Linked DNA regions of Homo sapiens. The protein of the gene in region 1 purifies or fractionates together with the protein of each later gene. This does not show direct contact. Each region holds a gene or a part of one and is shown on either strand. Other genes may lie near its edges.

Region 1 (5,012 bases):
CCCATCTCTTTTTATTAACTGCCGTGTTTTAGTAACATTTTACTTATCTGGCCAATTTACACCACTAGTCAACTAAATATAAAAGATAATGTTATCCATTAAAACAAGGGTTCCAAACTGGTGACCTGCAGGGCAAATCAATGTGTAGCTATATTTGGTTTGATCCACCCACTACTAAAAAGATCTGGAAATATCACACAAAAATTTGGGTTTCTGGGTTTCCCTTGATATATTAGATCTTTTAACACTAGACTGGAATTTCATGTGGCTAGGATCTGCTGGAGCAAAATATTAGAATGTCCCTTTATGTAAGCCCTACCACTGTGTGTTGCTTCCACCTAGCCAATTTCACTCGTTAAATACCTATCTGGTCCCTGTAGGCATATGCACACGCGACCCCTAGATTAAATTGATGTGCGTGGTAGTGGTGGCGGCGGCAGTGGTGTGCCTATGTGTTTATAAATTAAACATTCAAATAAGATGGCTTAACAAATAGTCTCAACCCATGTGAGTTAAGAAATTATGATTTGTATTATAATTCATTCCTTTAACATTAACAGCCCATCAAACAGTAAAATATTCTTGTAGGGATAAACAAAGTAGATTCCAAACAAAATAAACAAATATTTTATTAATAAATAATAAAAATATAAATAAAAATAAACAAAATACTATAAATACTATGAAAACAGAACCTCCAATATTTATAGAGCTGCAAACTAATGCCATGAAATCTTTATCTCTACTTCTATTCTCCTCCCTTCTGAGTTTTCCCTCCCCAAAAGTATTACAGAAAAGTCATAATCTATTTTTTTTAAAGAAGATTTATTTTGGATTAAGTGATTTCATGATGCAACATGGTTTTAAACAAAAATAGAGATCAGTATGAAAATAAAACAAATTGTACACATTAAAATATCTTTCCCTCAAAGCATTTCGGAATCATAAAAAATACAACAAAAGAGTCAGGGGTTCAGTTGAGAATAAGAATACAGACTTCCCAGAAAATAAACAACTAGTCCCAGTTCAGAGTCCTAGGCCCCATATAATACCACCCAGAAACCATTTCTAGGATGTCAACAATCTGCATTATTTACTTTGAAAAAAAAATTACATATAAGGTGAAGTGAGAGCTGTATAACCTTAATGCTAACAGCAAGCATCTCCCATTATTATTCTCCATCAAAAGTCACATTAAATAAATATGAAGCTTAAATCAACGCAAAAACTGAAATACCACTATTAACTGTGACACACTGTGTGGTGAACGTAATGACTGAGGTTGGTGAAGAGAAATTAAAAGCTTAAAAAAATACACCACCTGTGTTCTACTGAAATCTTAGAAATAATTTTTTTACAGAGCCTTAATATTAAAAAGTAATCATTACTATAAAATTAGATTAATACTTTCAGTAAGAGGCGAGAGAGATGCATGTATTTTTATTCATTTATTTTGGAATGCCTGCATCCCTATTATAAAAACATGTAATTTTAAGCACTTTCCAACATATTAACAGCCCCAAATTTTACTTATGCTATCATATAAAGAAAAATAGGTTGTAATTTTATCTTTTAGAGCATTAGGGTCCTAAAAGAACATCCCATTCTGTGTTAATTCCTGGTTAATCCTTCCAAGGTAATTCCTGAACATCATCCATTCTTTTTTATGAAGGTGATAGTAACCAGAAGTTGACTGATGGTTCCTTACCTGCATCAGTAATAGCTGATTCAGTTTGAATCACACAACACGGCTATCCACACTCCTCAGGTTGTAATATCTTAAAAGTCATATAGAAAGATATCACCTGCCCAAGGGCACTACACATAAAAATCACATATATAAATTTAATTCTCCTGTGTTCCCCAGAAACCATACAACTAGGGCCATCTTATTCTGCTGAGCTGTTCAATTACGAAAGCCAAATAAACGACTCTGCAGATAAAATCTAAGCAAATCTATTTCCGGTCTTGATTAACTTCCTGACTTGGAAACACTAATTTAGTCTCCATTTGCAACCTCACTCTTAGGATTTCACTTTCCAGATTAACAGAGAGCATTTAAGTTATCTTTAGAAATCATGAAAATGTCTCAAATGCTATTCTAATGTCAAGGGATGTCCGCTAAAAAAACCAAATAAGTATAATGAAATAAAAGCACCCTTTCTTTCATTTCATACATGGTGTTCAATAATAGTAACAATAATTCTTAAATAAAAAAATCCACAACATAATTTTATGCTAAATTGTCAAATCTCCTGATCAAGCTATGGTTAGCTTTAATACTTTGGGACTAAATTCCACTTTGCAATACAGAAAATGTTAAATTACTGAAGTTATAAAATGAGGGTATTTCCCATCTAGTAGATCAAACTGTGCCTTCATCAGGGAGCATAGCTTTCTTCTTCTCAGTCTGAAACCAAATTGAAGTATGTTCCTACCCCCACCAGCAAGCCCTAAGATGATCCATCTACCGTTGTTTTAACTTTCCCTCCACTACACTCCTGTCCTAACCATCCTTTCGCTCCTTCTGACCCAGATGGCTATGATATGGACAGCACACACACGGTCATCCTTCCTGACAGCTCCTCGGAATGCAGTTACCACTCTGAATCTTGACAGTTGGTCAATAATTAGCATTATATTCTTGCGGGGTGGCACAACTGCTGGGCTCCTCTTTCCTCCTTTTTTATTTTTATCATCCTTTCAGTGGGCAGTAGCTGGCCTTAAGCCACAATTCAGAAAGCTTTAATGTCTTCAGCATTCCTTTGCATCCATACTAGACAAACAAATTAATTTGGAAAACACAAATGAATGGGAAAGAAACTAAGTTTTTGAAAATTAGAGTCTAAAAGTGACATTCTCATCAAACTCACGGCAGTAAGATGGAAGTAAAATGGCTAAGGTCCAGAGTGCTGTCCCTCACCTACTAAATCAGAAAGCAGACAAAACAGAGCAAGGCCCAGAGGCTCACGTCTGTAATCCCAGCACTTCGGGAGGCCAAGGTGGGAGGACTGCTTGAGCTCAGGAGTTCAAGACCAGCCTGGGCAACGTGGCAAAACCCTGTGTCTACAAAAAATATAAAAAAATTAGCTGGGCATGGTGGTGCATGCCTGTAGTCCTAGCTACTCGGAGGCTGAGGTGGGAGGCTGGCTTGAGCCTGGAAGGCAGAGGTTGCAGTGAGCCAAGATCATGCCACTGCACTCCAGCATGGGTGACAGCCAGACCTTATCACAAATAAACAAAAACAACTGCCAGCATGGTGGCTCACACCTATAATTACTCCTAGCACTTTGGGAGGCCAAGGCGGGCGGATCGCTTGAGCTCAAGAGTTTGAGACGTGCCTGGGCCTTGTCTCTACAAAAATACAAAAATTAGCCAGGTGTGGTGGTATGCGCCTGTAGTCCCAGTTACTCAGGAGGCTGAGGTGGGAGGATCGCTTGAGCCTGGGAGGTGGAGGTTGCAGTGAGCTCATGTGCCACTGCACTCCAGCCTGGATGACAGAGCCAGACTGTCTCAAACAAACAAACAAAGAAAGCAAAAGGCCCTGAAACTGAGACTCAGTTTGGAGATTAGACCACATTCTTCTTATGCATGTTTTTATTATGCAGGGTTACAGATACCTCTTAATAATGGCATTGCATCATTTCACATAAATACGGAGTTTCCTGAATAAGGTTAAATTGAACAGACTCCTATCTTCATTATAAGATATTTGCCTTGTTAGAAGTGGTCCAATCATAAATAAAATTTGTGAATTTTATCACTGGAACTCAGCTATTAGGGCTTACTAGATCCATCCCTATTAAAAATTTAAAAATAAAATAAGGCTTCTGATTAATGTTTTCCATTATCTTGTTTCCAAATAATACTTGAGAAAATTAAATGACTATTCTGTATAAATCCATCAAAAGCAATCACATTTTGCCTTCTGTTTTTTAAATTTCTCATGTCAAGTCATGAAATGCAAATAAGTCTACGGGGAAATTTTTTCCATGAATATACTAATTTCTTTATGGACTTTTCAGAAGGTGTCATATTTTAAATGTATCTGTTTAAGAAAGTGAGAGTTTGGAGGAAGCATCTTGGAAACCTCACTGAATGTGGAATATACTGGTACAAACATTAGTCTCCACATTTCTCAAGATGAAACACAGAATTGTGACTATGAAGTAATGAAACTGATGCCACAAGCCATCCATGAAAATCAGCCACAACCCAGATGGAACATGATGCTTGTACCCTACAAAGTGCGTGAGGAGCTAAACGGACGATGTACCTGACAGCACTTTGAAACTATAAAGCACTATGCAAGCATATTCTACCATTTCTTTCAAACACTTGAATGCATTTTTACCATTTCTGATTGTTGCACAGGTAAAACAGATTTTCCTTTATTTATTGCAGAATTTCTGCTAAATTATAAACGCAATATATGCTAGAAAATTGTGACCATACTTCTTTGACCAAGATCCATTCATTTTGTGCACAAGAAAAATGTTTTGACCCCAGAAGTGGTTTGGGCTCAGGGATTGGGATTTTTCACACTGAAAACCAATGGTGCATTGTAGAATAGATGAAGGGAAACAGGGAAACTTTCCCTGTTTTGGCATTTCACTGATAATTTCAAAATCTTTGAGTTGCTCCTTCACAGATCAGCTCCCTACACACTTTACACTCTCGTTGTGTAAGTGCATCCTGGCTTCAACACTTGACCAGTATTGACATACTATTACTTGCCATTGCTTCCCAATAGAAACAGCATTGATGTAATTTTTTTTAGCCACACTATCATCTATATATGAAGCCATTATTGAATCTCCCAGATGGAAAAAGCTGTTCTCTTCTCTCTTCATTCCTTGATTGTAGAACTTACCAAATTTTATTAAAAACACTTTTTTGAACCTTGGAGTCTACTCTACTACACTGTGAGCTGAGCTTTTCAAAGGCAGATTTAGACTCTTGTAGCTCCATCGTCAAACAAACATCAAACTGGCACAGAGGGAATGCCAATG
Region 2 (7,934 bases), on another chromosome or scaffold:
TAATGAAAAATAGGAGAAAAATTATTCAAAACACTGCAGAATTTTCTGACCTGAGCTTCCTTATGCATTTAAAATGCAGATAGCCACACACCGCACCCCCCCCCCAACCCCGCCAAAAAGAAAAGAAAATAGAAAAGGTTACTTTGGGGGAATTTTATATATCAGAAATATTAGCAGGTCCTATAAAGTTACTTCTTTTTAATTTATTGGCCTGAAAAATCAAACTTTTACAATTTTCACTAGCAATTCCCATTTCATGTCATTAATTATTTTTTTCAAAAGTCTTTGTTTTATCATTTTCAAAGCATTTTCACAAATTACTATGAAGAAATGCAGCACTGATACCTAGAGGCTATACCTTTCAACAGAACTCTCACCAGCCAGACTGCTCATTTCAATTAGTTCAGCCATCTTTTCCCTAGGCCCTGGGTCCACACTTTTCCTTAGGGGTAGACATCAGAAAAGCTGAGCTCTACCCACAACAGCCTCTAGACTAACTGGCCCAGGGCAGACACTCTCAAGTCTGATCAGCGGAGTGCTTTCCCATAAAATCACTCACATTTCTGCATTCATGTGTTTTTCTTAACGACAGCACTTTAAAATCTCATTTAAACTGAAAATCCTCCATTAGCCTCCGTGAAAAGATGTATTTTTAAATGCTTTGATCTCCACATGCCCTTTGGAAAATTAGTATGCTACATCCTCCATCATCTGCAAAGAACCTGAAAGACCAAGACTTCTGTGCATTTTAAAAAGAAGGGGGAGGGAAAGGGGCGTTACAGGTACAGCACCTTCTCTCCTATCCACCTGCAGGTTTACAAAGGTTTCCTTATTTATCTTGAAAAATGCATCACAGAAAAACAAAAGTGCACTCCAAGAACTAAACATCCTCATCCCTCCCCCCAACCCCCACCACCATCATAAGGAAAAGTAGAGCCTGTATAAAGCCTTCTACCTATGTCCTACCCTTTTCATTCTGGTCGAATCGGTGTTTTCCTTCATTCTAGTCAAATCAGTGCTTTTCCACCCTTTACTAACAGTTCAAAGTATATTAAACTACTGTTCCCACATTATTCTCATAAAGAGCCTTCAAAGTAGATACACACTATAAGGCTCAGAGCACCTTACTAGGAAGTAAATGTCAGTTGCTCTAGATTCTTTAAGACCTTGCAATCTAGAGAGCTCCTTAATCGTTAACCTGGGTCTGACTTCCACAGCTGCCCGGGCCCAGGAGTGGTATGCAGCCAGGGGAAATCTTAGCCAGTTTGGCAGTGACCCATAGGCCAGTTTTGGAAGCAGGGAGCCATGATTGTTTAATATTTCAAGCCTTGACTTTTTGCTTCCCGAAAAGGAAGGAAATTTTCTGGAACTGTAGCTATTAATAGCCCTCTATTCTGGTTTAATTCGTTTATGGTGAGCAGGTTAGCACGTTACTGCTTTGGTTAGCCGAAAGCATCTTCGAGGTATCACAACTGGCTCTCGAGACCACGTACCCCACCACCACCAAGGCCTTCTATAAGCAGTACAAAAACTCAGTTCTCATAACATGCCTCAGGAGAAGAAAATGGGAAACCAAGGCCTCACAGAGAAAGGGAGCTGAGGGACCATGGGGACAAAATGTTGGGTCCAAACCGCATCGTCTCAGGAGGCCGCACGCTCAGGGCCCACCTCTGAAACCCCAGTCCAGGTGATCCACACGCTAGCCCGGCCAAAAGGTATTTGCCACGCGGAGACAGGAAACCAACACCGAAGCCAAAAAGGCAAAAATCTTCGAACAAAAATGGAAAAGGAAAGTCTTCCTAGTCATCAGTAAAGATAGGAAGAGTAGGGTGGGCGAGGCGCGGGAGCTTTGCGCAGATACCCGGGATTCTCGGCCTGGGGCTCTGAGGGGGGAAACTTGGACACGTCGCCGCGAGCGCAGTCCAGGTAGCGGAGGCCCTAGAGGTGCGCGCCAGGGCTCGTCTGCTCTGCCGCCGCGTCCTCCAGCCCGGCCGCCTATGGGGCACGCTCGGTCCCTGTCCCGGCACTAGGCCACCGTTCCGCTCGGCTGTCATCGGCCAACGTACCACTCTCCCTCCTGCCACAAATGTCACATTCCAAGAAAAAACAGTTCCATTTGGAAAGTTTAAATTTTCTCCCCGCGAAAGCAGATTATTGTAAAGGCAGCCCTAACAGGCAAGCGGGAGCTGGATGTAACTCTCCAGTTTGTCAAAGAAACTTGTCTGGGGAGAGAACAAAGAAGGAGCAGCAGCTAACGCGATCCGAGCGTCTGGGGCTGGGGTGCGACCCTTTCGTCGCCCCCACCCGCCAGAGCCGGGTCTGGCCGGCGGGCAGAAAGGGTCCAGTCCACAGCGCCAGAGCCCGTCGGGCGGGCCGGTGCGCGCGCCTTTGTCTCGCGCCGGGGAAAGCTGCACCGGACACCCCCTTCCGTCCCCTCCCTCGCCGCGAGACCCGCGCGCGGGCGCGGGCGCGCCTCGGAGTGTCTGGCCATATGGCTGCGCCCCTCAGGAAAGGCCAGCCCCGCGTCGGGCGCGCAGCACCCCGGGGCCCAAACCCCGGGGCCACAACTTCAGTCAACGTGGGTCGCGGGGCGGCAAGACGCTGAGGCCCGGCCCGCAGGCAACTGGACCTGGAGCGGGGCAAGGGAACCCGCTTAAAAACAACAATCTGGGATCTCAGCCCCGGGCCCCCAGAAGCTGCCCCCTTCCGTGAGCAGCAGGGGCCCGGGGAGCCCGGGGCGACTGGGTTCTTCGCGTGGGAGACTCGGAGACGCCCTCCCGGCACCTCGAGTGGGGGCTGGTTACCTTTCACCGCAGGCTCACAAGTTCCCCGGCGCAACTTTGCCCTCCACATGAGGCGATCATGGCTAGTTCAGTCCCTCGGCTGGGGAAGACGGCTGCCGGGCAGCGCGGGGAAGTGGCGCCGGACAATCAACCCCATTCACACAGGGCTTCACCTCCAGCCCCAAACCCGACAACCGCTGCTGGGTCCTAGAGCTTCTCGCGCGCTCCCGCCGCCGTCCGCGCTCCCCGCTCCCCGCGCGCGGGCCGGGGAGGGTCGCCCGGGCTCGTCACTAGAACCCTACACTCCACCCCCGCCGTGGCGCCCGGCCGCTGGGCCCTAGAGCCCGTCTGCAGACACCCGCCGCCCCTCCCCGGGCCGCGAGACTGCCAGGCTGAAATTGCCCAGAGCTCAAGCTGACGTGTCTCCCTGAGACTTAGGAGGGCGACAGCATCCCTTCCTTTGTCCCCTGCCGGGTTTTGATTAATTTCAGACTCACCAGTTCTCCCTCCACTTTGTCTTCCTTCCCCACCAGCCCAATGCCGGCCAAAATTCTGTTTCCGGATCTGCCCAAAAGTCTAGATTTGCTTAGGTTGGTTTTTTTTCTTCTTAAGTGGAATTTCCAGGTAGAAAGTGGCCACACTTTTCTCAGCATTCCCCAGGCCCCAGTGCTTCCATCACGCACTTGAGATTGGGCGATAAGCTGCTACTATGTGCTCCGTTGACAAACAGAAGGGCCAAAACAGACCTGACAGCCTCGGATATTAAATGTGTTCGCAGAACCGTACATCCTCTGGCCATAAATCCCCAGGCTGTTATCTGCCTGAGTAGAGGTAAAGAAAGTAAGCGACTCTGGGAAAATGTTGCCCCACCTCTTAAAATCAGGCTGTGCTGAGAACTACTCATCCACCTCATTATATTGGTTTATACTGGCGGCTCTCTGGAGCCCTAATCTGGGGTGCCCGAGCCTGCCCCATAGCACTTCTGCCTGGCTTTTTCCGGGCAGCTCTACTGCTTGGAGAAGAGAAAGCTAGGTAACTGTACAGTTGCTGCCCAGGATGTTAGTGGGAGAGTTAGCGCACACCAAGCCTCTCTTATCTGGTGCTCCCTGCCTCTGTTTACCTGCTATCTAGGTCCGGCCTTCAGGGACTCCTCCCTGGATTGTGGCAGTTCCCTAACTAGACTGCCAGCAGTTTTACCTCTCATCAGTTCTGGTGGGTTGCATGTCCTGATTCTGATTCCCCTGATGGGCCCTCCTACTGAGTAAACTCTGCTCTCAAGATAAAGCCCAAATGTAATCATTTAACAATTATTTATGAAATGCCTACTCCATTTAAAGTCATCTACCCTGGTACACACAAAAGAAACTTAGCACACAAAAGAAACTTAGAGCAGCTGACCAGCCCTTCAAGGATCTGTTATCTGTCTAAGAAGACAAGATGTGTGAACAGAAAACAGGCAAGCAACAAAGCAGGAGATCCAAGTACTGCAGATGCCTGGGAAGGGCGGAGAGAGGCACTGACTACACAGAAGGAAAAGCCTGGGAGGGTGGTGGAGTTCAGACACAGCAGAAAGAGGAAAAGGCAGCACTGGGCAAGCAGAGGCAAAAGCCAAGAGGGAGATGACAAGGTCTGGGTGCTTGGGAAGAAGGCATAGAGGAAAGCGTTTTTACCAGAAACGAGGAGAAAACAAGGGAAGGCAGAATAACAACGTCACAAAAATGTAGGCCTGGAAAGAATCTAAGAAAGTGTCAACTAAACCTTTCACTTGCCGGATGAAGAAGCTCAGGCATAGCTGTTGAATGACTTGTCCAATGTTACAGAACAAGTTTAGTAGCAAAGCCAGGTATAGAAACAACCTCTGCCTCAATGTGCCTTGTATTACACATTGTGAACCCTGAATCGCAAATTAGGAGCTGAAGTGGTTATCTTATGGACAGTGAAGGGACCACTGATTCACCTAACATTTGCGCGAATTTAATACAAATTGGGGAAGAAGTGATGGATAGAAAAAGAAGAAAGGAAACTAATCTTTACTAATTGCCCACTCCTAGATACCATCCTATAGTCTAGGAAGCAGCAAAATTTCCAAGTTACAACCATCAAGTTTAGAACAAAACAGGCATGAGCTGAGTTGCAGCTCCACCATTCAGTATCTGTGTGACGCTGAGCAAGTTGCCTAACTTCTCTAAACCTCAGTATCCTTTTTGGCAAGATGAAGAAAATAGCATCTCACAGAGTGGTTGTGAAGACTGAATAAAATAACAAATGTAAAATACTCAGCACAATGCATGTAGTATTCAATATACATTTGCTATTATTATTTCAAGAGACTATCTAGGATAGTTGCAGGAAGCAATGATAGGTGAGGTTGACAGAGGTGATAAAAAGGAAATGAGAGATACCATATCTTTGGAGATACCAGATGTCATAAAGAAAGGTATCAAATCTTTGAAGCAAGATTTTATTCTTCTCATTGACTCGTTGTTTATCCTGGGGAAAAGGACAAAGTAATCAAGTTAACCTAGGCTTTGAGCCCAGTCATAGGAAGAATAGATCTTGCAGTCTTAGAAGAATGGATCATTAGACCAATGACAGATGAAGCACAGTTGAGAAGAGGAAACGGTTTGAGAAAGATGCTGAGTGACTTACTATCCTCTGGGCAAGAGGAAACAAGGAACAAGGGACTGGGTGAGAAGTGGAGGACAGAGGTGTAGAGAAAAGGAGAGATGAAGCTTTGAAGATCAGTTCATTAACAGAATGTCCACAACTGGAAAACAGGGAAAGAAGGAGGGAGAAGAGGAAGAATCTGGAGAAGTAGAAGAGCTGGGAAAAGGTAAAGGCATGGAAGCCAGAGGAAGTTTTAAGAAGTGGGTCCTTCTATCAAATGCTACAGATTCTTAGACCTGCAATGAAGTGCTAGGCACAGCTTGTGGGTTCAAGGATCTTCTGATTCAATCAGGTGGACCTAGCCTAGACTCCTCAAATTAATACCCAGTAATCAGATACATGGAAGCACAGGCAGAAAACACTGCTGGAGACCAATGTTTCCCTCCTGTGCCTTAATTTCCTTATCTGTGAATAAGCTCTACATCAAATGCAGAAAACAATCTTTTCAGGCCTTAACTTAGTTCCTGAATCTATTGTTCAGGAACTAAGGCCTGCAAAAAAAGACTCTGAATTTCACTAGCAAGAAGTTATCAATAACATCTTTCAGTAAGCACACTTGGCTGGAGATTCTGATGTCTGGTTTGTGTCTAATGGAAACAAAGTATGTTTACAATAAAAATTGAACACACCTTCACTAACAGCAAGGTAGTGAACCAGTCCACATCTGTGCCTTCTTTAGATCTATGCACTCATCCTAAAGGTCAGCATCCTTTCTAAAGTGACCCAAGTTGTCATTTACTCATTCCTAAGAAAGCTAAGAAGATGATGGGCCAATTTTAGTGCTCTTTGGGGCAGCCCAGAGAGCAGTCTTTCACTCAAAACAGGACGAGTACCAGGATGTTCCAGTGATACCAAGCTGTTCCCAACAAGCATAGAGGCGGGAAGAATGTTGAAGTAACAGAGGCATCTGGATAGAGGAGAATGAGCAGGGCCTTTACAGTAAGACCTGCTTCTAGTCCATGTTCTATCTATTTCTAGACACGGAGAGCCTCAGCTTCCTCCTCTATAAAATAATAACATTTGCCTCATAAACTTATTGCAAGGGTTAAATGAGATAATACAGGTCAAGTGCTGGGCACATCTAGGAATTCAGTAAAAGTTAGAAACCCTCCTCTTCTCCAGTAATTTGAAATACCAAGGAATTTAAATACTCTATTAAAATGCAAATGTCTTTCTCCTCTCACTTTTCTCAGCACCCCTTCTTGACAAACATTTAAAGTCTTTACCAGCTAATACTTTCACTGAATGGGCCCTAAGAATGGGCTTGGGCTTGCAAAGACAGAGAAGCCAAACAGCAAAAGAAGAGTGGATGAACATGACTACGTAAGGAACAGCTACTACACACAGCCTCACCTGGGACCATCGCTACAACTGGTAGTTCTCCATTAATGACTGTTGAATGAACAAACCAATGATTTGATGCACCCAGGCTGCTTTGATCAAAATGCTTGTTTTGCTCCTAGAACAAGTAAGGATATTTTTTAAGTTCAATTTCAAGCACTTTCTGAAGTGTAACTTATGAAACCAAAGCATGTAAAAATTTAAACTCCTCATGTTCCACCTCCAAATTTCTGAATCTCTAAAGGTGCAGTCCTAGAATCCACTCGAAATGACTCCTAGCACATTGAGGTTTCCAGCTGGCTCACTGGGGTTAGTCAGTGCTCCTGCAATTCACTTTCAGAAGTATTTACTACATCAGAGTGTAGTATGCTAAAGATAAAAAATGATGGTGAACACACTAGAGATTAGACACAAAGCATTATGGGAGCATAGAGGAATGATGCACAGGAAAAAAACGGGCAAGTTCCAAGAAATCCAGGTGCTGAGAGGAGGATATTTCGAGCAAAGGCATGGACACAAGGAAGGAAAGCATACGCTGCCATGCTTCTAAACACCTTTTCTTTTAATTTCTTCTTTTTATAAACATCAAATGGTCACATCAACCCCAGAGTTAATAAACCCCTATATAATCACCAGGTGAGAAGTTTTTTTCCAACCTTTTCTTTCAGTTCTCTGTTTTACAATGGCAATACAGCAGACCCTTGCACAACACAGGTTTGAACAGTGCAGGTCAACTTACACACAGATCTTCCTCCACCTCTGCCACCCTGAACCAGCAAGCCCAACCCACCCCCTTCTTCCTCCTCCTCAGCCTACTCAATGTGAAGATGACAAGGATGAAGACTTTTATGATGATCATCTCTGCCTTGTGATTTTCTTAATAACATTTTCTTTTCTATAGCTTATTATTTATTGTAAGAATACAGTATTAATACATATAACATATGAAATATGTGTTAATCAACTGTTTATATTATCGGTAAGGCTTCCAGTCAACAGTAGGCTATTAGCAGTTAAGTTTTTGGGGAGTCAGAAGTTATATTTGGATTTTCAACTGTGTGAGGGGGTCAGCGCCCGTGACTCCTGCATTGTTCAAGGGTCAACTCTAGTGTGTTTTTTCCTGCCTTTTTCTAAATATAAAAT
Region 3 (7,158 bases), on another chromosome or scaffold:
TCTGGCTCACTGCAGCCTCTGCCTCCTGGATATCAAGCGATTCTCCTGCCTCAGCCTCCCCAGTAGCTGGGATTACAGACGCCCGCCACCACGCCCGGATTTTTTTTCTTTTTTGAGATGGGGTCTCACTCTGTCGCCAGGCTGGGGTGCAATGGCGCAATCTCAGCTCACTGCAATATCCGCCTCCTGGGTTCAAGCGATTCTCCTGCCTCAGCCTCCCAAGTAGCTGAGACTACAGATGCATGCCACCACGTCTGGATAATTTTTTGTATTTTTAGTAGAGACGGGGTTTCACCTTGTTAGCCAGGATGGCCTCGATCTCCTGACCTCGTGATCCGCCCGCCTCGGCCTCCCAAAGTGCTGGGATTACAGGCGTGAGCCCCCGCGTCCGGCCAATTTTTGTATTTTTAGTAGAGACGGGGTTTCACCATATTGGTCAGGCTGGTCTCGAACTCCTGACCTCAAGTGATCCGCTCACCTCGCCTCCCAAAGCGCTGGGATTACAGGCGTGAGCCACCACGCCCGGCCCTGTTTGACATTTTAATATCTATGAAACCCATCATGATGGGTCCAACAGGATGGATCCTACACAGTTGGTCCTGATGTTTTTATTTTCTTAGTGGTACACATAATAATGGCAAGTCTTACAAGCAACGATATCTAAGATTTGAAGGAATTCAGTGGCAAAAAATTTGGAGGAACATAGAAATAATAGTGTGAGTTAACTGACTGCTCATTTTAAAAGATGAAACCAAGGCTTAGTAAATCCAAGAAAGGGAAATACAAGCTTAGTATTATTTTCGAGTTGTATAACTAAATATCCAAAGAAATAAAAACAAAAAGGGATAAATGTGATTGCCTCCGGAAAGAGGTAGTGCAGTTATCGTTTTTCGCTACAAACCAGTCTATACTATTTTATTCTTACCACGTGCACATGCTTTTTTATGAACCGAAAACATATGATAGGAGGGATAAGTAAAAATACACAAAATCTCAGAGACTTCGGACAGGGACATTCACGCAGATACAGACAGAAAGACATCCAGGGGCAAAGGGTGTCAAAGTGAGAATAAGGTACCTCCAGAAATTTCAGCTGGCAGTGCTAATGGCGACCATGAATTTCAGACCCAAATTTTGCAAATCTCTAAAGCATGACATCAACACTTGTTGCCTACTGATGACAGGCCATTTTGCTTATCAGAAAGTCAAAATAAGGCCAGCAAAGGTCTGCAAATGTATCCTTGTGCACTGGAATGAAAACTCGCACTCGCTTAGGTGAATTACAAACTCTCCTTCGCTCAAACACTCAGCATTTACACAGCACCCTGTCACCTGCCCTGGTCTACTATCTGCACAGTGGTCGACTAAGGGGTACTAAGCACAGTCTCTACCCGAAAGCCTGACTATACTACGAGGAGGCAAAAGCTGGGGACAGAGGGCCGCTGCCTGAGGGGTAGGAGAACCGCAATTCTAAGAACGGTAGCCGTGACATGCACAAACCCAGCTTTCCTTCCCTGCGCAGAACCACCCGAGGGACCGCACCATCCCCGCTGGGACAGGACACATTTCCCCAGAGAAAGCTAACCAGCTAGCAAACCTAACTTGCCCGGGGCTGGCTGGAGGCGCACGGATCAAGCTCCGCCTCTCTCTCCCGCCTAAAGCAGGCGTAGAATCTTCGCAAAACGTCACAGGGCCAAGACTGAGCGCGCCAAAGCGGGACCCACCCCCAGGAGACGCGGATGCTGCGGGAAGGTCCCTCCCCTTCCTCTCTCTGCCCGCGCGAAGCTCATTCATTCTAGAGGCGGGCTGCCAGTCCTCCCCGGCCGCCCATCCCGGCACTGCAAATCCGCTAGACGCTTTGTCTCGCGCCGGCCGGAAACTGGGGCGCGCACGCGAGCGCGCGCTCGCGCTCCAGCTCCCCGCACCTGGGGCCTGAGGGGCCGCCTCTCCGCGCCGGCTCCCCGGATTCGAGTGCGAAAGCGGGAGCTCCTTCTCGGCAGTCCCAGGCGCGCACTTACCACGTCCCAGCGGGTATCCAAAATCTAGAAATGGGCATCACGGCCCCCCAGCGCTACAGCTCGAGCCCCCTCCGCGACCCCTGCTCCGCTATGAACTCTAGATTCTTTCTCCTTTCCGGAGACCGAGACCCTGTTCCTTCAGAAGGACGCGTGCATCCTGGCCTCTGCTCCCTCCCCACGGCAGAACCCGGTGAGCTGGTCGCCGCGGTTGCGCCCCCGCCCCTCCTTGGCGCTAACGCGGCCGCCAGCTAGCACTCACTTGAGGAGCAGCTGGTCGTGTTCCGCCTTGCACTTGCCCAGCTCGATCTGCAGCTTGGCGCGCTCGCGGGCCGTGTCGTCGAGCGCGCGTCGCGCGTCGGCCAGCTCGGTCTCGTAGAGCGCCTTGAGGCCGGTGAGCTCACGGCCGCGCACCTCCTCGCGCTCCGTCACCTGCAGCTGCAGCGCGCTGTTCTCCGTCTCCAGGCTGCGCACCTTGTCGATGTACACCGCCAGCCGGTCATTGAGCTCGCGCAGCTCCTCCTTCTCCTGGAGCCGCGACAGGCGCGTGGGGCTCAGCGGCGTGGTGGGGCCGCCAGCGCGGCTGCCCATCCGCGGCGGCACGGGGGTCGCAGTCGCCATGGCGGGCGGCGGAGACAGCGGGGCGGCGAGGCCGCGAGCGGGACCGTGATAAGGAGGGGACGGCAGGGGGCGAAGCGGGGACCGAAGGCACAAACCGGCGACCTGCGCTCACGTCCAGACGCTGGCGTTTAGAGGAACGGAGAAGCACCTGGGATGGCGGGAGCTCGATTACAGCACAAAGGGCAAAGGCGCGCGGGGGGGAACTACGAATCAATCGATCGATCGCGAAATACCCTTTGTAAGAAAACACACACACCCACTCACACACGCACGCGGGAAAATGCAAGACGAGGGTGACTGGAGGCCCAGCAGGGTTCGCGCCGCCGCCGTCTCCTGCTCGCAGCACTTTGTTTCCTCTCAGGCTGCACGGAGCGGCGGGCGGGGGGAGGAGGGCCGGGAGGGGCGGGCTGGAGGCAAGCCGCGGGGGGCGGAGGTGGCGCGGGCCGCGGCGCCGCACTCCCCAACATGGCCGGCACGCCCCGGCGCCTCCACGTGACTACCATGGGCCAATGGGGAGCAGGCAGCGCGCTTCGGCGGTTCGGGGGCCGGGCCTGTAAATTTAAAATCTGGCCCTTGGGCAACCGTCAGCTCGGCCCTCCCGGCTGGGCGGTTCCCGGACCAGGCTCAGGGCTGTAAGGAAGGACGCCTGGGACTGCCCACCCGCGCGGCTCTGGGCCCAGGGCCCTCCCGCCGCCCCGCGGGGACCCCTTGGAGGGGCCGGGCCTGAGAAAGGCGGGAAGGAGCCCGGAGGTTTCCGGGACGGATCTGCGCCACCGCCCACACTCGGCGGTTCAGGGAAATTCAAATATAAACGTCCCTAAAAGCCACACGCGAAACTCAGAGTGTCCCCGGCCACCGCGGGCGTGGTAACCTTATCCCCCGCTCCGCTGGAGGGCTCGGGAAACGGCCTGGAGGCCGGGACGCTGTGGAATTACGTAATAGGCACTTGAGTCCGAGGTTCCAAATGCACGGCTTGCAGGTTCCAAGTACCAGCCTTTATTTTTCTCTCCGGTGGAAAACTGTATCAGGCAACTTCTTTCCATGAAAGTGAGATCTGTGCGTCTTGAAGCCGATAGATTATCACAGAAAAACCAGCAACCCTGATTTTAAATCATTTGCCAACAGTGTTAATGGGCGGTTCCTAATCCGTTTCTTAATTTAAGGGTTTGTAAAATCAAAAAACAGCTCAGAAATGATACGATTAACATATGACGGTGAGTAACTACGAGAGCAAGCTGTTTCATACTCCGTTAAAATCAGGTACATAAAAATCTGAACTTGTGAAAATTTAAGATGAAATAATTTTTTGCTTTTAAAAAGAGGCTCCCAAGATGTCACTGGCAGCTACTTCTATTAGAAAGCACATTCATCCCTTTGAAAAGTTCCTAATTTTTAGCTAACATTTATTGGGACTGAGTGCCAGCACCAGGCTTTTCATGGATTACCCATCCACACAATCTCCGTGTGATGTGGGAAACTGGATTGTTTCTATTTGAAAATTCATCCGGGCGGGCGCGGTGGCTCACGCCTATAATCCCAACACTTTGGGAGGCCGAGTGGGGGAGGATCACCTGAGCTCAGGAGTTCAAGACCAGCCTGACCAACATGGTGAAACCCCGTCTCTACAAAAATACAAAAATTAGCCGGGCATGATGGCGGGTGCCTGTAATCTCAGCTACTTGGAAGGCTGAGGTGGGAGAATCCCTTGAACCCGGAAAGGGGAAGTTGCAGTGAGCCGAGATGGCACCATTACACTCCAGCCTGGGTGACAGGGAGACCCCGTCTCAAAAAAGAAAGAAAGAAACCATCCATTTTATAGATTCACTGTCTGAAGGCTGCTCCGCAGGACTGCGTTTGACAGGTCCCAGGATTCTAATTGACTCGAGTCTGGCCCTTAGCTATACCCTAGATGACCACCTTACCACCTATTAGGAACGCTTCTGTAATTAATGGTTACTTACTTTTAAAATGGCAGAAATGGAGACCAGGATATTCTTTAACTGTTAATCAAGTCATGTACATAAGAATTAGTGAAGAGCACTGGGAGCTGCATATTCATCCCAGATGAATTTTTGGCACTCTGTGAATGATGACATTCTCCTTATTAATGGTTCTATTTCCTGTCCGGTTTCCTAAAATACTTCCTTGCTTTTTGGGGGGTGGGGGGGTGGGGGGGAGGATGGCAGGGAGACGGAGTCTTGCTCTGTCGCCCAGGCTGGAGTGCAATGGCACAATCTCAGCTCACTGCAACTTCCACCTCCCGGGTTCAAGCGATTCTCCTGCCTCAGCCTCCTGAGTAGCTGGGACCAACGCCACCATACCCGGCTAATTTTTTGTATTTTAGTAGAGACTGGGCTTCACCGTGTTGCCCAGGCTGGCCTCGAACTCCTGATCTCAGGCAATCCGCCCGCCTCGGCCTCCCAAAGTGCTAGAATTACAGGCGTGAGCCACCGCGCCTGGCCATGAAATACTTCCTTTCTTAACCTCATTGAGAAATAAAGAATCGAAAAGCTTAGACTTTAAGTATTCAAGTAATCTTAAAGGGAACTTTAAAATCTAAATTACTGATGAGAAAACCGGCCGGGTGTGGTGGCTCAGCCTGTAATCCCAGCACTTTGGGAGGCCGAGGTGGGCAGATCACTTGAGGTCGGGAGTTCCAGACCAGCCTGTCAACATAGTGAAACCCCGCCTCTACTGAAAATACAAAAATTAGCGGGGTGTGGTGGCGCGCGCCTGTAGTCCCAGCTACTCCGGAGGCTGAGGCAGGAGGCAGGAGAATCGCTTGAACCTCAGAGGCAGAGGTTGCAGTGAGCTGAGATTGCGACACTGCCTAGGCGTCAAAGCAAGACCCTATCTGCAAAAAAATAAAAAAAATTTTTTAAAGTTAAATAAAATAAATTACCGATGAGGAAATTAGACCAAAAGAAGGTGAGTGCTGGGTCCCAGGCTGTGGAACCAGGATTGGAATGTAAATCTGCTTGTTCTCACTTGGTTGTGAGACCCTTTCCACTACGACAGGTGATATAGTCAATCCATATGGTTTTATGGTTTTCATTCCTTGCTCCCCTTTACCTGTCTTTTAAAAATACTTGGTTGGGAGGCCGAGGCGGGCGGATCACGAGGTCAAGAGATGGAGACCATCCTGGCCAACATAGTGAAACCCCGTCTCTACTAAAACTACAAAAAAAAAAAAAAAAAAAAATAGCTGGGCGTGGTGGCACGTGCCTGTAGTCCCAGCTACTCGAGAGGCTGAGGCAGGCGAATGGCTTGAACCCGGGAAGCGGAGGTTGTCGTGAGCCGAGATCGCGCCACTGCACTCCAGCCTGGCGACAGAGCGAGACTCCGTCTCAAAAAAAAAAAAAAAAAATTGTCAGTTTTCTTTTAAAATTATTTCCTGTCCATTTTTTAAGTTTTAAGATTATATGTGATTCCAGCAATGATCTCTATTGCTCTCAACCCCATGAAGCTTTGTTTTTTGTTTTTGTTTTTGTTTTTTTTTTGAGACAGAGTTTCGTTCTTCTTGCCCAAGCTGGAGTGCAGTGGCGCGATGTCAGCTCACCACAACCTCCATCTCCTACCTCCTGGAGGGTTCAAGCGATTCTCCTACCTCAGCCTCCCGAGTAGCTGGGATTACAGGCCTGCGCCACCACACCGGGCTAATTTTGTATTTTTAGTAGAGACGAGGTTTCATCATGTTGGTCGGGCTGGTCTCCAACTCCTGACCTCGTGATCCACCAGCCTCAGCCTCCCAAAATGCTGGGATCGTAGGCGTGAGCCACCACGCCCGGCCTGAAGCTTTCTATTGATAGAGTTCCTCAATTTTCAGATTATTTGAAGAGGCTCACATTATACATATCCTATTATATAAAACAACTTTCTTGGAGTCAGACAATTGAGGATGTGCTACTGATAGCTGTATAACTTTAAGAAAATTATTCCGTGATTTCCTTCAAGGAAAATGGAAATGGAGCCGGGCACAGTGGCTCACGCCTGTAATCTCAGCACTTTGGGAGGCTGAGGCGGGCGGATGACGAGGTGAAGAGATCGAGACCATCCTGGCCAACACGGCGAAACCCCGTCTCTACTAAACATACAAAAAAGTTAACTGGGCATGGTGGTGCGCGCCTGTAGTCCCAGCTACTCAGGAGGCTGAGGCAGGAGAATCTCTTGAACCCAGGAGACAGAGGTTGCAGTGAGCCGAGATCGCGTCACTGCACTCCAGCCTGGCGACACAGCGAGACTCCGTCTCAAAAACAAAACAAAACAAAAAAACACATGCCGGGCTCGGTGGCTCATGCCTGTAATCCCAGCACTTTGGGAGGCTAAGGCAGGTGGATCACCTGAGGTCGGGAGTTCGAGACCAGCCTGACCAACATGGAGAAACCCCGTCTCTACTAAAAATACAAAATTAGCTGGGCGTGGTGGCGCATGCCTGTAATCCCAGCTACTTGGGAGGCTGAGGCAGGAGAATCGCTTGAACCTGGGAGGCAGAGGTTATGGTGAGCTGAGATGGCACCATTGC

The links.
Region 2: the proteins of HECW2 (region 1) and AMOTL1 purify together in Homo sapiens (affinity purification with western blotting; 2 studies listed by BioGRID, with this or other methods). This does not show direct contact.
Region 3: the proteins of HECW2 (region 1) and LMNB1 purify together in Homo sapiens (affinity purification with western blotting; 2 studies listed by BioGRID, with this or other methods). This does not show direct contact.

What each region holds. Positions count from the first base shown.
Region 1 is NC_000002.12:196,193,564-196,198,575, forward strand, and holds the end of HECW2 (E3 ubiquitin-protein ligase HECW2), read right to left. Parts: 3' UTR 509-5,012; downstream 1-508. UniProt on the Homo sapiens protein: E3 ubiquitin-protein ligase that mediates ubiquitination of TP73. Acts to stabilize TP73 and enhance activation of transcription by TP73. Involved in the regulation of mitotic metaphase/anaphase transition.
Region 2 is NC_000011.10:94,763,431-94,771,364, reverse strand, and holds the start of AMOTL1 (angiomotin-like protein 1), read right to left. Parts: upstream 3,010-7,934; 5' UTR 2,854-3,009; coding exon 2,805-2,853; intron 1-2,804. UniProt on the Homo sapiens protein: Inhibits the Wnt/beta-catenin signaling pathway, probably by recruiting CTNNB1 to recycling endosomes and hence preventing its translocation to the nucleus.
Region 3 is NC_000005.10:126,772,987-126,780,144, reverse strand, and holds the start of LMNB1 (lamin-B1), read right to left. Parts: upstream 3,010-7,158; 5' UTR 2,637-3,009; coding exon 2,278-2,636; exon of another isoform or gene 1,795-2,277; coding exon of another isoform or gene 1,586-1,794; intron 1-1,585. UniProt on the Homo sapiens protein: Lamins are intermediate filament proteins that assemble into a filamentous meshwork, and which constitute the major components of the nuclear lamina, a fibrous layer on the nucleoplasmic side of the inner nuclear membrane.